Linked DNA regions of Homo sapiens. The protein of the gene in region 2 purifies or fractionates together with the protein of the main gene of each other region. This does not show direct contact. Each region holds a gene or a part of one and is shown on either strand. Other genes may lie near its edges.

Region 1 (7,293 bases), on a different chromosome or scaffold from region 2:
GAGTCTAAGGCAGCAGTGACCTATGACTGGCACCACTGCACTCCAGCCTAGGTGACACAGCGAGACCCTGTCTCAAAAAACAAAAAACAAGAAGGAAGTGCAAGATGACCAGGTGCAGGCTGTGGGTGGGACCTGGCGGCCTATGCACACAAAAGTCTCATGCGGGCGGAGGGCCGCCAACCTGTCTTCATTTGTCCAGGATCTTCCCAGTTTGGAAACCCCTCAGTCCCAGGCACACTGGCATGTGATCAGTCACTCTACACGTGGGAAAACTCACAGTCAAAGAGGCTGGTCCCACGGCTGCCCTGCTGTGATGTCAGCCAAGTGGAGTTCGGGAGGGAGTGCCAGGAGCCAGGAAGGGACCGGGCCCCTGAGGACACCGGCGTACTCTCTGCCAAGGCTGGGCAGCACCGTGTTCAGGTTCAATCCCTGCTCTGCTCCTTCCTACCCGAGTGGCCCTGGGCTAGCATATAACTTGAGTCCGTTTCCTCGGCTGTAAAATGAGGACAGTAACCATTCCTATTTTGTACAGATTTTGTGAGGCATTAAATTCAATACTGCATGAAGGGTATTTTGAGCTTAGTAAATGCTCAAAACATGTTAGCTGCTATTTCTGGCTCTTCTTGTAACATCAGCAACCCTTCCTCATTGCACGGATGAGCAAACAGAGGCTGGGAGGACTGAAGCCACCTGTCCGAGCTCTCACCATGGGGAAGGGCGATATGGGTGATGTGGACTCAGAGTCTGAAGCTGGGGTCGTTGAGCCCCTCCCCTGACCTCCTCAGGCTCTCCCTTCATAAAGGGGCCACAGCCTCCCTGCAGGGCCCTGCTCACCGGAGCTGGCCGCCATGGGTGCCTGGGGCTGGAGCTCATCTAGGACGATGGAGGCCATCAGCTTGCGCATGCCCAGCATCCCCGAGGCCAGGTGCGTTGCGTACATGTCTCTCACCTTGGGGGACTCAGTCCCAGTGATGGCATCATGGTGCTGGACCTGCAGCAACCCCCAGAGGGGAGGAAGAACAGGATCAGGACCTGACTCTGCAAAGCACCTACAAGGCACCTACTAGGCGCTGGCTCTCATTCTGGCTTGCCAGGTGCCAGTGGAGAAGGGGGCAGTCCCCGCCATTTTACAGAAGGAGGAACTGAGGCCAAGAGAAGCTGAGGAGCTCGCCCAACTTTTCCTGCCCTTGTGGGAACTCATTGTCCCCCATCTCTGGACCCCCTGCTCTGAAGGACCCTGAAGTCACCTCATTTCTCCCACAACATAATGACATGTTCTGCCAGCAGCTCCTTTTGGGGAACTGTTACAGTGTCATGGCTGGTGTGACCCTTTTTTGGATAGGTGACTGAGGACAAGTTACAGGCTGTCTTGGGTCTGTTTTCCCATCAGTACAGTAGGGGATGGGTGGAGACGGAAACTCATGAACTGGCTATTCAGCAGCCACTGCACCAAGCAGGCTGTGCACACCAGCACATCCAATTGCCCCACCGTCCTCCTGGGCAAGCTCGTTGTTCTCATTGTACAGGAGGGAATTAGGTCTTGGGTGGGTGTGGGAATCATGTGCCTGACATCACACAGCTGAGCCGAGATATGGATGCAGGCAGGGCTGTCGGACACAAATGCCACTCCACCTTGTCCTTTATCCCTTTTGCTAAACTGCTACAAAGCTTAATGAGGCCACCAGCTGGATGGATCAGGCTGTGGTCTCAGCCTTGGCCTGGGTTCACCATGCACTGGCCTTGTAACCAAAGGGAACCTCAGTTTCCCCTCTGTAAAGTGGGGCCTCTAGTGCCCCAGGGCTGGAAGGATTGGCTAGGACAAGGGAGGGGAGGTGCGCAGCATGGGAGGTTCCAATCCTGCCACTGTGGCTAAATGTGGTGTTACCTCGGAGACGGCCCAGCGAAGCTGCTGGAGCTGCTGCAGGGCCCAGGTGGGGTCCAGATGCCCACGGGGGGCCGGCCACAGGTAGCGTGTGAACATGGACTCCCCGGCATACAACAAGGCGCTGGCTCGCCGGGCCAGCCCCTTCAGTGAGCTGCGGGACGTGTAGAAGCCCGTCCAGGCCTGGAATGGTTCTGGGAGACAAGGGAAGATGGTGAGCTTGAGACGGCATGACCCAGAAGTCTGCTAAGCTCCAGCCCTGGAAGAGCTGAGAAGCTGGGGCTGCAGAGGCAGCCTCTGCCAGGGTCACCCAAGGAGGCAGGCCGGGCAGGCAGCGAGCCCAGGGCTTACGGCTCCCAACTCAGGCCTCCTCCCATAGCCAGACTAGGAACTGCCCAGAAAACCCTGGATGGGCCTTGGGCAGGGTGGGAGAGACAGGCTGCACTGGGGCAGGTGGGGTGGGGTGCTGAAGGATCCTGATCGGAGGCAAGCCCAGGGTGCCTAGGAAACACAGAACAGCTGTGTGAGCAAAGGGCCTGGGAGACCCAGAGGGGAAGAGGAGGAGCCAGGTGGGCAGGACCCCACTGAGAAGGGCCTAGACTGCACAGAGGCCTTCATGTGTGACGTGGGCATGGGGAGGCCAGGACAGGCATGCGTTTCAGCAGGGATTCTCTGGGCGTCCAGGGAGGATGGATGGTAGGAGGCAGCAAGGGCTCAGAGACCCCAGGGAGCCAGTGTCCTGATGCAAGACAGAGAGGATGAGGATGCCCAGGGCCCATGCAGGAGGCAGGAGGGCTGAACCCTCCCAGGGAGTGGCTGTCTGTCTCAGAAGGGAGCTTCCTATTGCTTTTGCTTTCCTGCTCCTCGGCGTCTGGGATGTGCCCAGATTTGCCTTGATTCCCTGTTCTTCCCCCACTGGTCCTGAACCAGACTGGGAGGGGTGGTCACATGGCCCAGGGGACAGGCCACACCCTGTGGGTCAGATGGGGTCCTCCACAGCTTTGCAGCCATGTTGAGAGTGGGTGGTGAGGCCCGATTCCATTCAGTCTGGCAGGGGCTCCACATCCTCAGTGGTCATCACGATACCATGCCCGCCTGGATACCACGCCCACCTGGACGCCACGCCCACCCACACCCGCCTGGATACCACGCCCACCTGGATACCACGCCCACCTGGACACCACGCCCACCTGGACAGAGCCACACCCAACTTGACTCGGGTATATCCCTACCTGCTAGATGTGGCCACACCCACAGTCACTACCCCACCCACCTCACCATTAGCCATGCCCACATTAACATATCTCCTCCTGCCTTGACTATAACCACACCCACATCCACGGACATCCCCCAACCCGTGTGTGCAGCCCCACCTGCCTCCAATGTGGTGTCAACAGCAGGAGCCGGGGACTATGCAGCCCCACTGGTCACCATGCAGACCCAGAGGCTGGGGCCCAGAGAGGCAGGACTAAGCCAGGTCATGGGTGAGTCAAGGCAGTGCCCAGGCCAGAATGAGCCCTGCAGCTGGAGTTCATCTGTGGCATCTCTTTGGAAGGGAAATGTTATGGTTTGAATGCCCCTCCAAAACCCATGTTAAAATTTAATTGCCATTGTGACTGTATTAAGAGGTGGGATGCTTAAGAGGAGATTAGGCCATGAAGGCTCTGCCCTCGTGAACAGATTAATGTCATTGTCATGGGACTGGGATTGTTAGAAAAGCAAGTTCAACCCCCTTGTCCGGCTGTTCTTTTGCACTCAGCCTTCAGCCATGGGTGATGCAGAAAGAAGGCCCTCTCTAGACACCAGCCCTCCACCTTGGACTTCCCGGCCTCTACATCTGTGAGCCAAAGAAACTTCGTTTCCTAATCAATGACCCATTCTGTGGTATACTGTTACAGCAGCACCCAGAGGTCTAGGACATCTGCTGAGCCCTGCCTCTGTGCTGGGCAGGAGGCTGAGAGCACTTCTTCTCATTGAATTTTCACAGCAACCCTATCTATGCACGAGGCACCACAAATGTCCCCCTTTGGAGACAGGGTGGTTTCATGACTTGCACACAGGCAGCGAGTAGAGGCTTACTCACAGCCAGCCCTCTTAGCTCTCAGGCTGTGCTGCTGGTGGCCAACCCAGTTCTGGCCTGAGGACACAGGCATGATGCACAGGAGGTGCCCAGTAATGACTGTGCAGTGAAAGGAAGCCCGAGTCAGCCTCAGCATCAGGAAAGGGCTCGTAGAAGAGGTTTATGTGGAACTCATGCAGGAAGAGAAGGTGATGGAGGCCGCTCCCAGCAGGAGGCACCACCTGTGCAAAGGCCAGAGGCAGGAAACTGCATGTGGTGGGCAATGGTGAGAGGCTGAACCCTGTGGGAATCAGGTGGTGCATGTGGTGGCCAGGACGTCCAGGTGGAGTGAGCAGAGAGGGTCAGTCTCTGCCCCTGCGCCCCACACAGAACCTGCCTGGAACCCCTCCAGGGCTTGGAGAGCAGTGCCGAGCAGCCACTGAAGTGGGCAGAGGGTACGTGGACTATACCCTCCCTGCCACCAAACTACCACCCCAGCCCCTGGAAGCCTGTACCTGTGGAATAGGGCAGGAAGTCGTGGTGGTCGCGGACACGCCAGGTGACATTGAGAGCGTGCAGGGCACGGAAGTAGTCGCCCAGCGTGGCATACTGCACCGAGACACCGAGCTCGGCAGCATGGCTGTTGATGTGGTCCAGCAGCGGGTCCATGTTGGCAAACTGCACCGAGGCATTGAAGAACTGCTTGTCACATCCCTGCAGGGACATGGGAGCAACATCCTGTGCCGTGGGAGCAGGGCGCTCGCCCAGTGGGGGTGGGCCGATCGCTGCCCTCCACCAGCTGCCCTCCCAGTCTCCAAGGCGGCCAACAGGGGCCCCAAACCAGCTCCCATAGCAGTGGCTTGATCTCGGCTCATGCAACCTCCGCCTCCCGGGTTCAAGTGATTCTTCTGCCTCAGCCTCCCTGAGGCTGCAGGCGCCACCACACCTGGCTAATTTTTATATTTTTAGTAGAGACAGGGTTTTACCATGTTGGCCAGGCTGGTCCCGAACTCCTGACCTCAGGTGATCTGCCTGCCTTGGCCTCCCAAAGTGCTGGGATTATAGGTGTGAGCCACAGCGCCCGGCCCTGGGCATCTCTTAAGGCCCATCAGTGTTACTACTTATCCAAATCATTATAATTAATGATTATTAATTATTATAATTAATATAATGATTAATAACAGCAATAATAACCATGACTGAGTTACTGATCTTAAGCTTGCCTTCACAAGGGCAGTCACGGATGAAGAAGGCAGGCTCTGGGGCCCGCCTGACTGGGTCTGAACACAAATTCCACCCCTTCCTAGCCACCCTAAGGAACTCTGTGGCCTCAGGAAAATTCCTTAACCTCTCTGGGCCTTGGTTTCCTCAACTGTGAAATGGATACCAGCCTGCTTCCTAGGCCCAGTGGTGCAAATTAGATGGCTGAGACAAATATATCCCACGGGGCAGTGCCCAGCACACAGCAGGTGCTCACTAAAGGTTAGCTGTGACGATGGCCACGACGTGCCGGGCACTGGCTTCCCGGGAACGCTTCACCTCTCACCAAGCCTATGAAGCCTGCTGCCACCATCCCCATTTTACAGCGGAGGCAACTGAAGCTCAATGGACTCTAAGGCACGCAGTGCCCGAGCCGGGAGCCAGCCCGGCCCAGGCAGGGAAGAGAGCTGAGTGGGAGCTGGAGAGGCCAGCGTGGGTGAGGGTGCTTTTCCAGGTGGGGGAGGGGCTGGTAGAGTGGGAGAGGCCCAGGGGTCTGCAGGGAAGGAGGATGGAGCCACTGGGCTGAGCATGGCTGCCTAGCTGGGTCTGGATAGGGTGGCCCTGGGTGCAGGGACCAGGGCTTGCATAGTGCTCCTTGGGCTGTGTTGAGGGCACAGCACCTGGGACTCTGCCTTACCCAGGGCCAGAGGACGTGCGGTGTCCGGAACCAGGCGGCCCTCTGCTTCACGTTGGCCACCAGGGCCTCGGCATAGAGGTTGATGTTGGCTGGGGTGACAGGCTCACTCATGTTGGGGTACACCCCATCTTGGGGAGGCTTGGGGAAGACAGCCACGCCATTCCAGTAAAATCCTGACCTGTGCGAGGGCAGAAGGTTAGGGCAGAAGACACGAACTCTGTGGACAGCCAGGGCTCACACCCAAGTGCCATGTTCTCCCAGCCTTGGGACCTTGGCACATCATTTCACCCTGAGACTGAATTCTCCCACTCCATGACCGACGGTGGGTCACAGATTTGTTTGCTCATTCACGCAGGCCAACTTCTCGCCCATCAGACCCCGGGTCTCAGGACCCCAAAGAGGCCGGGGGCTTGGTGAGGCAAGTGAGGCCCTGGCCTAGGGCACAAAATTTATGGGGGTGCCTCAATTCTTAGTAGTTGAGATAAATGATATTTTAATGCAGTACTTTAAAAAATGAAAATTAATGCAAAAAACCCATGAGGAACAAAATGTCAGAGTTTTAAATAAAGACAGGCTCAGTATTTAACATCTTTCTCTGTTTGCCTTAGGCTGGGGGTGTGGAGAACCCCCAGTTAAGTGCCTTCCTTGCTCACACTGTGCAGCCTCGGGGTAGCAGCCATGGAACCCTTGTCTGGAGCTCTCCAACCTGGGCAGCCCCTTCCAGCATTCCCACCTCTGTTTCTTTTACAGACAGGGTCTTGCTCTGTTGATCAGGCTGGAGTGCAGTGATATGATCACGGCTCACTGCAGCCTCGAACTCCCGGGCTCAAGCCATCGCCTCAGCCTCCCCAGGAGCTGGGACTACCACCATGCTCGACTTGTTTTTGAATTTTATGTAGAGACGAGGTCTTGCTCTGTGGCCCAGGCTGGTCTCGAATTCCTGGGCTCAAGCAATCCTCCCACCTCAGCCTCCCAAAGCATTGGGATCACAGTCATCAGCCACCAGCACTGCCACCTCTAGCCTCACCAAGCTCCCTGGTAGAATGTGGAGCAGGTTGTTGTGAGGATTAAATGAAAGTCATTTATGGAAAGGAGCTAGAAACAGTGCTGGGCACAAAGGAGGGCTGACAAATGGCAGTGACCGCTAATTAATCCCGGCCAGTGTTCTTCACCCCCTCTGCCTTGCCTGTTGTCTTTCCTCTTCCAAGAGAGGCTAAGCACCTGGCCAGGGCAGAGTGCGGATTTGAACCCAGGGCCGTCTGACTGCACAGAGACCAAGGCTGACTGCTGCCACCACGTGGAGGCTGCAGAGCTGGTGGCCTGAATCCAACGCTGGCTCCACCACGTCTGCCAGCTGTGGGACCTGGGGCGGGCTGCTGTGCCTCAGTTTTTCCTTCTGTAAGATGGGGCACTCACAGCATCTCCGTCAGTGGGCTGCTGCGAGGGTCTGTGAGG
Region 2 (7,748 bases):
CCTGAGCCAGCAACTCCCCTATCCCTTAAGGCTTCTTCTTTTTTTTTTTTTTTGAGACAGAGCCTTGCTCTGTGGCCCAGGCTGGAGTGCAGGGGCACAATCTCAGCTCACTGCAGCCTTGAACTCCCAGGCTCAGGCAGTCCTCCCACCTCAGCCTCCCAAGTGGCTAGAACTACATGCATGGACCACCACATCCAACTAATTTAAAACAATATCTTGTCTGAGCATGGTGGCTCTCGCCTGTAATCCCAGCACTTTGGGAGGCCGAGGTGGGTGGATCACCTGAGGTCAGGAGTTCAAGAGCCTGGCCAACGTGGTGAAACCTCGTCTCTACTAAACATACAAAAACTAGCCGGGCATTGTGGCGGATGCCTGTAATCCCAGCTACTCGGGAGGCTGAGGCAGGAGAATCACTTGAACCCAGGAGGCAGAGGTTGCAGTGAGCTGAGATCGCACCATTGCACTCCAGCCTGGGCAACAGAGCAAAAACTCCATCTCAAAAACAAACAAATAAATAAACAAAACGTTTTGTAGAGATATGGTCACAGTGATGTGGTTGCCCAGGCTGGCCTCAAACTCCTGGGCTCAAGCGATTCTCCTGCCTTGGCCTCCTAAAGTGCTGGCATTAGGCATGGGCGTGCCCGGCCCCTTAAGGCTTTTTAAGATGCCACAAGGAAGGATTGGATCAGTCAGTCCCGATGCCCCTAGCTCTGGCTACCTGGATGATGGCTGTTGCCTGGATCCTTTGATAATCCCTACTCCAGCCCTCTCACCTTTGTGCTGGGATGATGAAGTTGGGGGTCTCATCAATGAAGCCCTGGATAAAAATAGGGGATGTTTGTGGGGAGGCAGGAAAGCCCCCTTAGTGCCCCACATCCTGACTCTTTCAGTTCCCGGATAGCTGCTTGGGTTCACGCCAAAGACGTTTTTATATAGTCTTTGCTCAGGCAGTGTCTGCCGCCTAAAATGCCATCCTCCTCACCCCAAGAAAAACCCACCTAAGACTCAGGCCTCCTACCCTTCTATCCCTGCTGGAACCCAGCAGAACCCTTGACATCCGTACCCTCAGTTCCCATACCTCAGCGGGGGGTCTAGGACTGGCGATGTCTTCCAGCATCACCACCAGGGTGGGCTGGGGGGCCCGGTCCACCTTTTGTGAAGGGCCCTCCTCTGGGCCAGGGGTTGTCCTTGATCGCCGCCTCAGGGTGGAAGAGGTCCGGTGGATGCGGCTCAAGGGCTCGCGACACAAACACAGAGGGTCGGGAGGCCTAGCGAGGGAACAGGAAGATTAAAATGGCTCAGCTGGGCCCTCGGCTTACCCCCATCCTGCCATGCTCACCTGGCCTGCGAGGACCACCCGGCCTGCCGGGGTGGCGAGGCAGGCGGCTGCCTGTGGACAGGATCCTGATGGTAGCTGTGGTGCTGTGGTATGGAGGTCTGCTTTGAGGGCACCACGGGGACCTGGAAGAGAAAGAGGTGTCAAGAGCAAGGTGATAGAATGAGGCTGGACGGGACAAGGTTTCCCTGTGCCTCACAGTGCCCTGAGCCACAAACATAACAGAGATTGGGGCTAGAATTCACTCGGATCCCAAGAGAAGAGATGAATTGGACTGAATTAGGGGCCAGATATTAAGAGTCCTAAACTGCAGGTGTAGGACCTGGGTAATCTCATCCACGCTGTTTAGAGAAATGAAAAAGACAGGGTGAGCTAGGGTGGGTCACTGCCTTTTTTGGGCCAGTTTTTCTTATCTGTGCAGTGGAGTCAAAGACCTCAGCCTGCTTCCTAAGGAGGCTGGGCTGGGAAGAAAGCAGAAGAGTTTCGGCCCAGCGCCGTGGCTCACGCCTGTAATCCCAATACTTTGGGAGGCAGAGATGGGAAGATCGCTTGATGCCAGTTTGAGACCAGCTTGTGCAACATAGCAAGACCCTGTCTCTAAAAAAAAAAAAAAGATAGAAAAAAAGAAGCAGAAGAGTTTCTCAGAGTTACAGGGATGTGGTTCCAGCCCAAAATCGTTGGTGGGTGGAATGGGCACTGCCCAATTCTAGGTTGGAGTAAGTGGGAGCCAAGCAGGACTCTACCATGAGGGAGGCTGCCTGAGGGCTGAGTACAACAATGATGGATTTGGACTTCAGTTATCCTCAGTAGGGATCTGGCCCGAGTTTGGTAGTGAGGAAAGTCATGGGGGAATAGAGAGTCTCTTGGTTCAGGGGGCTCACCATGTGAACAGCCATGACATCTTCTAGCACCACGGCCAGGACCCGCCGAGAGGCCTTTTCCAGGGGAGAAGGGGCCCCCGGGAGCTGCAGCCTCGGCCGTTTCGGGCTCCTGGCTCCCCATAATGCTCGAGTCAGAGGCTGGCGGCACAGACGCGGCTGGCCAGGCGGGCTGGAGGGTGAAAGAAGCAGAGGACGGTCGCCCGAACCTGTCGCTGGCTCTGTAGTTTCCCGGCACGGTCGCCAGGATCCCCATCTCCCGGGGTCAAGACAGGCGGGCCGCCCGGGTACGCTCTCACCTGGAGTCCCCGGGCAAGTCCATGGGAGACGCGGCGGCTCCGGGGGGGTCCCTGGGGAATCCCAGGCTGCGGCCTGGGGTAAGGGGGGAGCGGGGGAGCGGGGGGTGAGGGCCGGCCCCTTCCCTGGGGCTCCGCCCTTCATGGTCCGCCCGCGGCTCCCCGTAGCCCAGCGGCCGCAGCCCTGGGGCGCGAAAGGGCGCCCCCGGCCGGTCGCCCGGAGCGGGTGTCCTCCCGCTGCCACCGCCTCGATCAGCGGATCACTCGCGCCCTGCCTGGCACCTGCCGCCAGAACCCAGAATGCAGCGGCCCCAGTTCTCCCGCGGCCCGAGCCTCCCGAGGCCTTTGTCCCTGCAGATTATGCCCCGAGATCCCCCGGGATCCACGGGGATCCCGGTCCTGGGAGGCTATTTCCGCTGGATCCCTCTGCGATCCTCCTCCTCTCCCAGCGAGTGGCCGAGGACTCCAAAGCAATACTCCATACATCGACGACCCTCCATCCCACCAGATCCCCTAGACTGGATCCCTGAGGAAAGAATCCTACAGCGCGGTTCCGCCAATCAGACGCCGGGCGAGGCTTTTCCTTCCCCTGTAAGCTTCAGCGCCGCAAAGCTCCGCTCAGACAGGGGCGGCCCGAGCTGGAGCATCTCCGAACTCAGCGTAGATCCCCAGGGATCCACTGTCAAGCAGATACCCTCTTCACTCCAATCCCGGGAGGTCCCGCCCACAGACGCCCCTTCCCTCCTCGCGTCCCCGCCCAGCGGTCTCCCCCGGCCCGGGACCAGATGGTTCAGAAGTTTCCTTCCCCGCCCCCACTCCCGCCCTCTCTCCAGCCACTCCTTGCCCTCCCCCAAGGGCTGCTCACCGCCGCCTCCCGTGGATCCCGGGTCTTCCGCAGCTCCCACCTCCGGCTCCTTTAAAAACCAAGCTTACCCAACGCTGCCCAACCGCCGATGGCCTTCTTCTCGGAGCCTCTGGACACCGCCCAATCGCCGGTCCCCGTCTTCCGGGGTGGTGAGAAACTAAGTGAAGCCACCTGGCGGCCATCATCCCTAGGGGCAGGAAGCCAAACTGAGTGGCGCCGCCATGATGGTTGAGGGCAGATGTCTTAGTCCTCGTTGAACCGTGGTGGACCGGGTGGCGTCATCTTTTGAGGGCCATATACAATGCCAGGTTTCTTGATATGTTGAGGCAACCGATTGAAGCTAGAGTGCCGCCACGCTTTTTAAGGGCATCTTCCGGTTCTTTCGTTCTTAGGCCAATAAACGTCGACTGAGTGCTAACGATATGTGAAATTCCCAATTTCCTAGAGTGGCCTCGTTTGAGGAAGGTTCCGGCATCTTCCTGGGTTCCTAAACTGGGTTCCCACGGCCCAGGGTCCGAGTTTAGGAGGGGGTGGTGGAGGCCCTGAGTCCGAACACCCGGGATCAAAGACGGGCTGGTGCGGCCTGTGGCTCCGTTGCTGGCGCCTTGTCCTGGAGAGATGGGACCGAGCCGAAGTGGGGAGGAGACTGGGGGCGCTAAGCTTGACTTCCCCTGAGTGTTGCCCACCTACTTCTTCCTGGAGAAGTGGGGGTGCCCACGGTCCGCGCAGAGGTCTATAGGACAGGGGCATCTTTGCAGGAGGCCAAGAATATACCTTGGCTTGCTAGTGGGGCCCGGCTCTCAGGAACCACTGTCTCAAGTGGGGCCCGCAGGATGGGGGAGGTGTAAATAGTCCTGAGGAGTAAGGGATCAGGGTGGGACGCTGCTGCTTGGAGGAGCTGCGTCATGGACCCTTTACTGGAAGCTGGGCTGTTGGTGGGGAGGAAGTGGGCATGTAGTGGCTTCTTGCAGCGCTATGAAGGTGCCCTGACCGCTTAACCAAAGCCCATGTCTGCACTAGTTCTCCTTCCCCAGATTCCCTGGTCCAAACCAGTACTTCTTTTCTTTTTTAATTTTTTTTTTTTAATTTGAGGCAGGATCTCGCTATGTTGCCCAGGCTGATCTTGAACACCTGGGCTCAAGTAGTCCTCCCGCCTCAGCGTCCCAAAGTGCTGGGATTACAGGCGTGAGCGCCCAGCACGAGTCCTTATTTTGTTTTCTTAACAGAACGAGAGACCCTGAAGCCTAGAATCCTGGGTCCGAGATAAGGTGCAGAGGTGCTTCCTGGTTTAGGTGTCATAATTCTCAGGGGATTGAGTGATGAAAGTGATAAAACAGGGCCGGGTGTGGTGGCTCACACCTGTTATCCCAGCACTTTGGGAGGCAGAAGATAGCGGATCACTTGAGGCCAGGAGTTCAAGACCAGCCCGGCCAACATGGCAAGACCCCATCTCTAAAAAAAAAAATACAAAAAAATGAGCCGAGCATGGTGGCGCACGCCTGTAGTCCCAGCTACTCAGGAGGCTGAGGTGGGAGGCTCTCTTGAGCCTGGGAGGTCGCAGCTGCAGTGGGCTATGATCGCGCCACTGCACTCTAGCCTGGGCGACAGAGACCCTGTCTCAAAACAGACAAACAAACAAGGGATGATATGGAAAGCATAATCGAGAAGGGCTTATGTGGGAAATGGAGGCTCCCCAGCTCCGTCCCTAAGGACTCATGCAGGGAGACGTTCTTGCAGGACTACAGCATCTCTGTAACAGGAGGTCCGCTGGGTCCTCTGGAAACCCATTCAGACTTCTGGTGGGAGCAGGCCGCCGTGGTTCTTCCACGTAGAGGTGTTTCTCTCCCTCTGGATCAGGGCTGGCAGTATGGGTGCCTGAGGAGGTACAGTGATGTTTCATCCAGCTGTGAGTGCTTGGAGATTCTTTCAACCTTGCCAAATTAAGACCTAAACCCCACAGGTGCTTTTCAGGCCCCAGGGCAGGAAAAACTTTCAAAAGCAGAGCAGGCCTAACCTGAGTTTTTAGGTATTTTTTGTTTGTTTGTTTTTTGTTTTTGAGACGCTCTGTCGCCCAGGCTGGAGTGCAGTGGCGCCATCTCAGCTCACTACAACCTCCGCCTCCTGGGTTCAAGCGATTCTCGTGCCTCAGCCTCCCAAGTATCTGGGACGACAGGTGCTCACCACCACGGCCGGCTAGTTTTTTGTATTTTTAGTAGAGACGGGGTTTCGCCATGTTGGCCAAGCTGGTCTCGAACTCCTGGCCTCAAGTGATCTGCCCGCCTCGGCCTCCCAAATTGCTGGGATTATAGGCATGAGCCACCACACCTGGCCCTAATCTGAGTTTTGATTCTCTAGGTCTCTTGAAGTCAATGACACCAAGGGTAAAAGATGTAGTCCAAAGAAAAGTCCTGGACCTGAGTATTTGGTAGGAAGAGCCCACCAGTGTGACCCTAACTTGGGGTGCTAGAGTTCATCAAATGGAAGTCTAAGGTAGACTGTGGCAGTCTTGGCCCTTAGCCCAGGCCAGCAAATGTGAGCCCTCATGATCTTGCGGTCTCACCTCTGCTCTTTTTGTGACTTCCCATTTCAACAACTTTACTTTGCCCACTGCCTACACAGGTGGTGGACACACTGTGGGGTGTACCACAGTGTATGCTGATGCATTAGCAAGAGGGCCCCACACAGCCTCCAGTGGGGCTGCTGGTGTGGCCGTGGGTGCACTTCAGTGTGTCATTATTCAGAAACTCAGGGTCCGTTTAGACTCTGGGCGGCCCATCTTTCTTTTTTCTTTTCTTAGACAAGGTCTTGGTCTGTCACCCAGGCTGGAGTGCAGTGGTGTGATCATGGCTCACTGTAGCCTTGACCTCCTGGGCTCAAGTGATCCTCCCACCTCAGCCTCCCAAGTAGCTGGGACTATAGGTGTCCGCCACCACGCCCGGCTAATTTTTTGTATTTTTAGTAGAGATGGGGTTTCACTGTGTTAGCCAGGATGGTCTCGATCTCCTGACCTCGTGATCCGCCCACCTCGGCCTCCCCAAGTGTTGGGATTACAGGCGTGAGCCACCGCGCCTGGCCTGGACCCTTTAAATATATATATATATTTAAATTTTTTTTACCAGCCAGCATCATGCTAAGTTTTGTCAATAGATGGCTGGAGAGACATTGCAGGAAGAAAGAGTTTTGCTTCCCAGTTCAGCAAACCCTCCTGGGAGGCTCCTGCAGCACAAGTGGGTTCCCAGCTCCCTGCTTCTGCAGGGCAGGGTGGCCAGCAGAACCCCAGGGTCAGCAGCTCCCCCAGGTGCCCTCTGGATGGTTTTGCAGTGGAGTTCCTCTGTGGAGACACCTGCCCATGAACAGCTTTCCCTGGCACCCAAGAGGGTGGATTTCCAGCAAGTTCCACCAGACTGACACTCCAGCAACTACTGTACTTCAGCGACTTCTGTACTTCTGTGCCCTCTCCAAAAACTTGTGGATCTCAGGAAGGAAGGAGGTCTGTCTTTCTTTCTTTCTTTCTTTTCTTTCTTTCTTTCTTTCTTTCTTTCTTTCTTTCTTTCTTTCTTTCTTTCTTTCTTTCTTTCTTTCTTTCTCTTTCTTTCTTTCCTTCCTTCCTTCCTTCCTTTCCTTCCTTCCTTCCTTCTTTCTTTTTCCTTCCTTCCTTCCTTCCTTCCTTCCTTCCTTCCTTCCTTCCTTCCTTCCTTCTCTCTCTCTCTCTTTCTTTCTTTCGACAGGGTCTCACTCTGTCACCCAGACTGGAGTGTGGTGGCTCACCACAACCTCCGCCTCCCAGGCTCAAGCGATTCTGCCTTAGCCTCCCAAGTAGCTGGGATTACGGGCACATGCCACCATGCCTGTCTAATTTTTGTATTTTTAGTAGAGATGGGGTTTCACCATGTTGACCAGGCTGGTCTCAAACTCCTGACCTCAAATGATCCACCCGCTATGGCCTCCCAAAGTGCTGGGGTTACAGGCATGAGCCACCGCGCCTGGCCAGAAGGAGCCTTTTTCTTGTATGCTCTGTCTCCGCCTGAGAGGAGCTGTGGCTGCTCCTTGTATTAGGTTGGTGCAAAAATAACTGTGGTTTTTGTCATTAAAAGTAATGGCAAAACCGCAATTACTTTTGCACCAACCTAATATCTGCTCTTCTTGCATTTTTTTTTTTAGAATTCTGTTTACTTCTTATTATCTGTAGTGGGCAGAATTTTGTCTCCCCACCTCCCCCCCACCCCACCAAAGATATTTTCAAATCTTGAACCTTTCACTTCCTCTGAATCTGACCTTATTTTGTTGTTGTTGTTGTTGTTGTTGTTGTTGCTGTTGTTGTTTGACACAGGATCTTGCTCTGTTACCCAGGCTGCAGTGCAGTGGCTGGATCT
Region 3 (7,293 bases), on a different chromosome or scaffold from region 2:
CCAGCAATGAGGACCATCGCTGGCACATAGAAAGAACTCAGTACGTATGTATTTATTGTATTGCTGAATGGGCAGAGAGCTGTAGTTAACAACATCTTCTGTTTGGATAGGCTGCTAGGAAAAGCATGTACTATTGAACCTGTGAGGAGCACTCATATCCCACTTCTAACTCCTCATTTCTTCATCGGTCAGCCTGGATGTCTCTTCCTTTAGAAGCCTTTGCTGATCACTCCACTTCTTCCAAATACAGTAGATGTGTCTGCTGTGTATTTATACAACATCCTGAACTACTTAACATGCTGTTTATTTACTTGTTTGTATTCCCCATTAGAATAGGCTCTGAGAAAGCAAAGACTGTATCTGTCTTGCTTATCATTGTATCCCTGACAGCTCGCCCACTGGCTGGCTTTTAATAAGCACACCATAAATATTTACTTGAAATACTCATTTTTAAAATGAACAGATGAATGAATGATAGATGGATGGTGGATGGCATTATGTAGCTAAAAATTGTGTCCTGTCTCTACCTATTTTTGAAGACCATCCTTTAGTTTGCGTTTCCTGCCATGTTTGAGGGGCCTTTTTTTGGTCCATAACTCTTGTCTTTTATTCAAATTAAAACACCGAACAAAAGCACATTCGATTATTGACCATGAGGTTTTTATTCTGCTGTCAGTGTCAACCTCATGTCTAAATCACCTGAGGTCAAACTTACATATATCTGGATAGCCTTTTTGATGACGATGGTAGTCTAATTTGTGTGTTATGTGCTCTTGAAATGTTTTGCTGTAAAGACACTAGAACTGAATTTTGCTTTATTGCAATGATGATGAATGTTAAAAAAAACAACTCAGTAACATTCAAACCAATTTCCAAGTTTGTTCTTCAGCCAGAGGAACTTGCACACTGACTTTTTGTAAAGGTAGCAGATTTATTGTGTTGTAATTCATACACCATAAAATTCACCATTTTAAAGTTTCCAATTTAGTGGTTTTTAGTATGTTTACAGAGTCATGCAACCATCACCACAGTATCATTGCAGGATGTTTTTATCATCCCTCAAAGAAATCCAGACCCACAGGAGGCTGAAGCAGGAGAATCGCTTGAACCCGGAAGGCGGAGGTTTCAGTAAGCCGAGATAGCGCCACTGCACTCCAGCCTAGTGACAGAGCAAGACTCTGTCTCAAAAAAAAAAAAAAAAAAAAAAAAAAAAAAAAGAAAGAAATCCAGACCTATTAGTAGCCACTCCCCATTCTACTTTCTGTCACTATGGATTTGCCTATTCTGCTTATTTCACATAAATGGAGTCATACATTGTATGGCCTTCTGTGTCTGGTTTCTTTTACTTACTTAGCATGATGTTTGAAAGATTCATTGATGTTGTAACATGTATCAGTTACTTTGTTCCTTTTTATGGCTGAATAATATTCCATGGCATCCCATTTTGTTTATCAGTTGACGGATATTTGGGTTGTTTCAGTTTTTAGCTATTATGAATATTGCTCCCATGAACATCTGTGTACAAGTTTTTGTGTGGACATGTGTTTTCGGTTCTGCTGGATATATACATGAAAGTGGAATCGCTTAGTCATATAGTAACTCTGTGGGAGATTTAAGGAACTGCCAAACTGTTTTCTGAAATAGCTGCACCATTTTACATTCTTACCAACAATGTATGAGGGTTCCAGTTTCTCCATATCCTCGCCAACACTTTTTATTATCCCTCTTTTTCATTATAGCCATCCAATGAGTATCTCTTTGTTGGTTGGGTTTTCTTTTCTTTTCTTTTTTTCTGAGATGGAGTCTTCCTCTGTTGCCTAGGCTGTAGTGCAGCAGCGCGATCTCGGCTCACTGCAAACTCCACCTCCCAGGTTCAAGCAATTCTTCTGCCTCAGCCTCCCGAATACCTGGGATTACAGGCATGTGCCAGCACGCCTGGCTAATTTTTGTATTTTTAGTGGAGACAGGATTTCACCATGTTGGCCAGGCTGATCTCAAACCCCTGACCTCGTGATCTACCCCCTCGGCCTCCAAAAGTGCTAGGATTACAGGCGTGAGCCAGGGTTTGCTTTTCTGTAATGATCAATAAAATAGAGCACTTTTCATGGTTTATTGACCATTCTTGTTGAAAATCAGTTGACCATAAATGTGAGGGCTTACTTTTGGGCTCTTAATTCTATTCCATTAATCTGTATGTCTGTCTTTATGCCAGTACCACACTGTCTTGGTATTTTGGACTAAGTTTTGAAATAGAGAAGTGTGAATCTTTCAAGTTTTGTTTCCCTCAAGAGTATTTTGGCTCTTCTGGTTCTCTTGCATTTCCATATGAATTTTAGGATCAACTTGTCAATGATACAAAAACAAAGCAGCTAGAACTTTTGATAGAGATTGAGTTGAATCTGTTGTGCTCACTGGCATTTGGCTGAAACTTTAGCTTGTTACCTCTTTTGGACTAGTTGCGTGGACCTCATTTTGAGCATGTAGATGTGATGTTATCAGGATTTGGTTATTAACTTTAGATTACAAATGTTTGGGAACTTAAACATGTTATTCACAGCCAGGCATGGTGGCTCACACCTCTAATCCCAGCACTTTGGGAGGCTGAGGTGGGTGGATCACCTGAGTTCTGGAGTTTGAGACTAGCCTGACCAATATGGTGAAACCCTGTCTCTGCTAAAAATACAAAAAATTAGCTGGGCACGGTGGTAGGTGCCTTTAGTCCCAGCTACTCAGGAGGCTGAGACAGGAGAATTGCTTGCTTGAACACAGGAGGCGGAGGTTGCAGTGAGCTGAGATCGTGCCACTGCACTCCAGCCTGGGCAACAGAGCAATACTCCATCTCAAAAAAAAAAAAAAAAAGTTATTCACATATAACATACAACAGAAATAATCAATGTTCACTTCGTTGACTATTTACAGAGTGAGCACACCTACATAACAAGAGTCTGGATCTAAAAAGGACCATTGCCAGTATCATTGAGACATTTTGATGTTTGTTTTGATTCAGGTTTTTTCATTTTCCTAGATGTTCTAGTAGAGCTGAAGGCTTATCCTTTTTTTTTTTTTTTTTTTTTTTTTTTTAAAGACCGAATCTTGCTCTATGGCCCAGGCTGGAGTGCAATGGCGCGATCGCAGCTCACTGTAACCTCTGCCTCCTGGGTTCAGGTGATTCTCCTGCCTCAGCCTTCTGAGTAGCTGGGATTACAGGTGCCCGCCACCACACCTGGCTAATTTTTGTATTTTTACTAGAGACGGGGTTTCACCATGTTGGCCAGGCTGGTCTTAAACTCCTGACCTCAGGTGATGCGCCTGCCTTGGCCTCCCCAGGTGCTGGGATTACAGGCATGAGTCACCACAGGCAGTCAGCTTATTTTAACTGCATATTTGGAATATCAGTAGGTAGCATAGTGCAGTGGTTGAGCTACGGACTTTTGGCCTCAACTGCTGGGGTTCAAATTCTAGCTTTACCACCTATTAGCTGTGAGACCGTGGGCACGTTACTTAACCCTATGTGCCCCAGTTTCCTCTTCTGTAAAAGGGGGACAAAACTATCTCATTGGGAGGATTAATATGTAGATTGCTTGGAAAATTGCCTGATGATCACAGTAAGTGCCATATGTGTATTAGCTATTATTCATATTATTACTTTTATTGTTGTTATTTTGTATTTGTATTTCTTTAGTGGAATATAAGCTCCTTGTCTGACTTGTTTATCATGATATGCCCAAAGACTAGCACTGTGCTTGGCACATAATAGATATTCAACACATTTTTTGAGGAAGGAAGAAGGGGATTTTAAATAATAGAATTCCTAAATCCTTTTCTGAAACCGCCTTTGACAGCTATAATGTCTTTCATTTACAACAGCTTCTGGAGCTATTTGACAGCGAAGACCCTCGGGAACGGGACTACTTAAAAACAGTCTTACACAGAATTTATGGCAAGTTTCTTGGTCTTAGAGCATTTATCCGAAAACAGATTAACAATATTTTTCTAAGGTAAGTGGAGTGTGATGGGGGAAGAAGGAGAAGCAAAGTTGGTGTTTTTATGAGTATTAAGTAAATCTCAAATATCTGAAAACGGTGTACTGACTTCTCTTTCTCCCTTTCTGCCTGCCTTCCTTCATTCTACTGACTCTCCTGCCTCTTCCTCTACCCCCTCCCCCTCCTCTCCTCCCCCATCTTCTCCTCTCCTCCCCCATCTTCTCCTCTCCTCCCCCATCTTCTCCTCCCACCCTCCTCTTCCTCCTCTTTTCCTCTTCCTCTCCCTCCTCCCCCCACTGCTTCTTCTCTATCCCTCCTCTCCCCCTACTTTCCCCCTCCTCTTCCCTCTCCCCTGCTTTTCTCCTCCCCCTTCTCCTCCTCCCCCATCTCCTCCTCCTCTCCTCTTTTCCTCTCCTCTCTCCTCCTCCTCCTCTATCCCCTGTCCTCCTCCTTTCTCCCTCCCTCTCCTCCTCTCCTCCCCGCTCTCCTCCTCTCCTGCCCCCTCCCCCTTCTCCTCTTTTCCTCCCTCTCCTCCTCTCTTCCCCCACCTCTCCCTCCCCCATCTTCCCCCTCCCCTCTCTTCCCCCCTTCTCCTCTCCTCCCCCGTCTCTTCCCTCCTTTTCTCCCCCTCCCCCTTCTCCTCCTCTTCTCCTCCCTGTCCTCCTCTCTTCCCCCACCTCTCCCTCCCCCATCTTCCCGCTCCCCTCCTCTCTTCCCCCCTTCTCCTCTCCTCCCCGACTCCTCTCTTCCCTCCTTTTCTCCCCCTCCCCCTCCTCCTCCTCTCCTCCTCCCTCTCCTCCTCTCTTCCCCCCATCTCTCCCCCGTCTCCTCCTCTCTTCCCCCCTCCTCCTCCCTTTTCCCTCTGCTCCTCCTCCCTTCCACCCTCTCCTCCCCCCTCTTCTCCCCTCTCTCCTCCGCTCTTCCCTCCTCTCCTCCCCCTCTCTCCCCATCTTCTCCTCCCTCTCCTCTCTTCCCCCATCTCTCCCCCATCTCCTCTCTTCCCCTCTCTCCTCCTCTCTTCCCTCCTCTCCTCCTCTCTTCCCTCCTCTCCTCCTCTCTTCCCTCCTCTCCTCCTCCTCTCTTCCCTCCTCTCCTCCTCCTCTCTTCCCCCCTCCTCTCCTCCTCCTCTCTTCCCCCCTCCTCCTCCTCCTTCTCTCTTCCCCCTTGTCCTCCCTCTCCTCCTCTCTTCCCCGCTCTCCTCCTCCTCCTCCTCTTCTCCTCCTCCTCCCCCTTCTCCTCCTCCTCCTCCTCTTTTTATCCCTTCCTTCTCCTCCTCCTCTCCTCCTTTCTCCTCCCTTTTCTCCTCTTCTCTCAGGTTTGTTTATGAAACAGAACACTTCAATGGTGTAGCTGAACTGCTGGAAATATTAGGAAGGTGAGCACGGTTTTTCTAATTGCTAATCTCAGATGAATATTATTTTAAAAATTAGGTTCAGGTGGCACCAAGAGATGCTCACCTAGTTCTCTTGCTGTATGTACATTGGGTCTCTCTCATTTGTGCCTATTAGCATATTTTCCAGCTGACTCTACAAGACACAATTTCCTGTTCCCCTTGTTCCACAAGTATGCATTGCCATTTCCACTGGAATGACTGAAAGAGCTGACAGTTCATTCATTACTAGAAAGATGGTACATCTAATTGTGGTCAGGCTAGTTACTCCAAAACATCTTATTCTCATTAGTTTTTAGGCTATCTGGTCCTTTGCCTTATCTGTTGAAAGCAAGTTTATAATAAATTGGAAAGATTGCCATTTTCAAAGGAGTTGTGTATCCAGGTATAGTCCTTGAACAGCTGCAGCCTGGAGTAGTGGAATGAATTGGAAAGAGCTGTGGTGTAAGTTTCTACACACAAGGGAGGATAATGTAGCTGGACAATATGATTACTTAATCTTTTCTCCTAATATGAAGAGAAAAAGAAGGTGGAGTCACATGGCTTTCTCTCAGTGATTTCCCTAGGCTGGGCAGAGGTTTCAGGAATGAGAAGGAATGATGTCTGGAAATGGAAAAGGTCATATTTAAGGCGGAAGCAAGCAAGGCGGGCCATTATTTGGAGAAGGAAAAGGGAGGGAAAATAAAGGGTTTTGATAAAGAGCTTTTGGAAACCATCTGACTAATTTTAGGAGCACAGGAGCCTTTGTTGGGTGACCAGAAGCAAATTTTCTTCTCTTAAATTTCCTTCCAACTTTTTGTATTCCTTGAAGTCATTAAGAAATCCTGGCTGGGTGTGGTGGCTCACGCCTATTATCCCAGCACTTTGGGAGGCCAAGGTGGGCAGATCATTTGCAGTTAAGAGTTCTAGACCAGTCTGGACAATATGGTGAAACTCCTTCTCTACTAAAAATACAAAAAAATTAGCCAGGCATGGTGGTGGGTGCCTGTAATCCCAGCTACTTGGGAGGCCTGAGGCATAGGAATAGCTTGAATCCCGGAGGCGAAGGTTGCAGTGAGCTGAGATTGGGCCACTGCACTCCAGCCTGGGCAATAGAGCAAGATGACTCTGTCTCAAAAAAAAAAAAAAAAAAAAAAAAAAGGAAATTCTGAATGCCACTGGGGTGGGTATTATGTTGTTTTGTACAAACAAACTGATTAAGTTTAATTAATATCACAAGAACAGTTTGTCTCAGTTCAACTTGTGGTAACATTGCTAATTTGTGTCTCTTTTTTCTCCCTAGTATTATCAATGGCTTTGCTTTACCTCTTAAGGCAGAACACAAACAGTTTCTGGTGAAAGTATTGATCCCTTTACACACTGTCAGGAGCTTATCACTCTTCCATGCACAGGTAGGAGGATTTTGTACAACTACTTTTAGAAGCAAAATAAAAAGTTTGCAAACTCGTTTTTTTGATATTGATATAACCTTCATTTTGTTTTTTTGGTTTTTGTTTTTTGAGACGGAGTCTTGCTCTGCCGCCCAGGCTGGAGTGCAGTGGGACAGTCTTGGCTCACTGCAGCCTCCACCTCCCGGGTTCAAGCAATTCTTCTGCCTCAGCCTCCCGAGTAGCTGTGACTACAAGCGCACGCCACCATGCCCAGCTAATTTTTGTATTTTTAGTAGAGACGGGGTTTTACCATGTTGGCCAAGATGGTCTGGGTCTTCTGACCTCATGATCCGCCCACCTTGGCCTCCCAAAGTGCTGGGATTACAGAGGTGTGAGCCACGGCGCCGGGCCTATCGCCTTCATTCCCAAAGGAAAGAGACTTACTTAAGTTTAAAATACTCCCCGAGGGAAATAAAAATGTATGCATTTTTTTTCTATGCACAGTAGAATCATGGAAATATTTTTAAAGTGGGAGGAACCCTTGTTTGGT

Evidence for each region.
Region 1: the proteins of PRR14 (region 2) and MAN2B2 purify together in Homo sapiens (affinity purification with mass spectrometry; 2 studies listed by BioGRID and IntAct, with this or other methods). This does not show direct contact.
Region 3: the proteins of PRR14 (region 2) and PPP2R5E purify together in Homo sapiens (affinity purification with mass spectrometry; 2 studies listed by BioGRID and IntAct, with this or other methods). This does not show direct contact.

Annotation. Positions count from the first base shown.
Region 1 is NC_000004.12:6,591,896-6,599,188, reverse strand, and holds part of MAN2B2 (epididymis-specific alpha-mannosidase isoform 1 precursor), read right to left. Parts: intron 6,017-7,293; coding exon 5,839-6,016; intron 4,656-5,838; coding exon 4,457-4,655; intron 2,077-4,456; coding exon 1,886-2,076; intron 992-1,885; coding exon 835-991; intron 1-834.
Region 2 is NC_000016.10:30,646,434-30,654,181, reverse strand, and holds the start of PRR14 (proline-rich protein 14), read right to left. Parts: upstream 3,223-7,748; 5' UTR 3,055-3,222; intron 2,587-3,054; 5' UTR 2,537-2,586; coding exon 2,514-2,536; intron 2,387-2,513; coding exon 2,218-2,386; intron 1,462-2,217; coding exon 1,340-1,461; intron 1,269-1,339; coding exon 1,079-1,268; intron 818-1,078; coding exon 774-817; intron 1-773. UniProt on the Homo sapiens protein: Functions in tethering peripheral heterochromatin to the nuclear lamina during interphase, possibly through the interaction with heterochromatin protein CBX5/HP1 alpha. Might play a role in reattaching heterochromatin to the nuclear lamina at mitotic exit.
Region 3 is NC_000014.9:63,393,291-63,400,583, reverse strand, and holds part of PPP2R5E (serine/threonine-protein phosphatase 2A 56 kDa regulatory subunit epsilon isoform), read left to right. Parts: intron 1-3,867; coding exon 3,868-3,998; intron 3,999-5,298; coding exon 5,299-5,358; intron 5,359-6,655; coding exon 6,656-6,764; intron 6,765-7,293. UniProt on the Homo sapiens protein: The B regulatory subunit might modulate substrate selectivity and catalytic activity, and might also direct the localization of the catalytic enzyme to a particular subcellular compartment.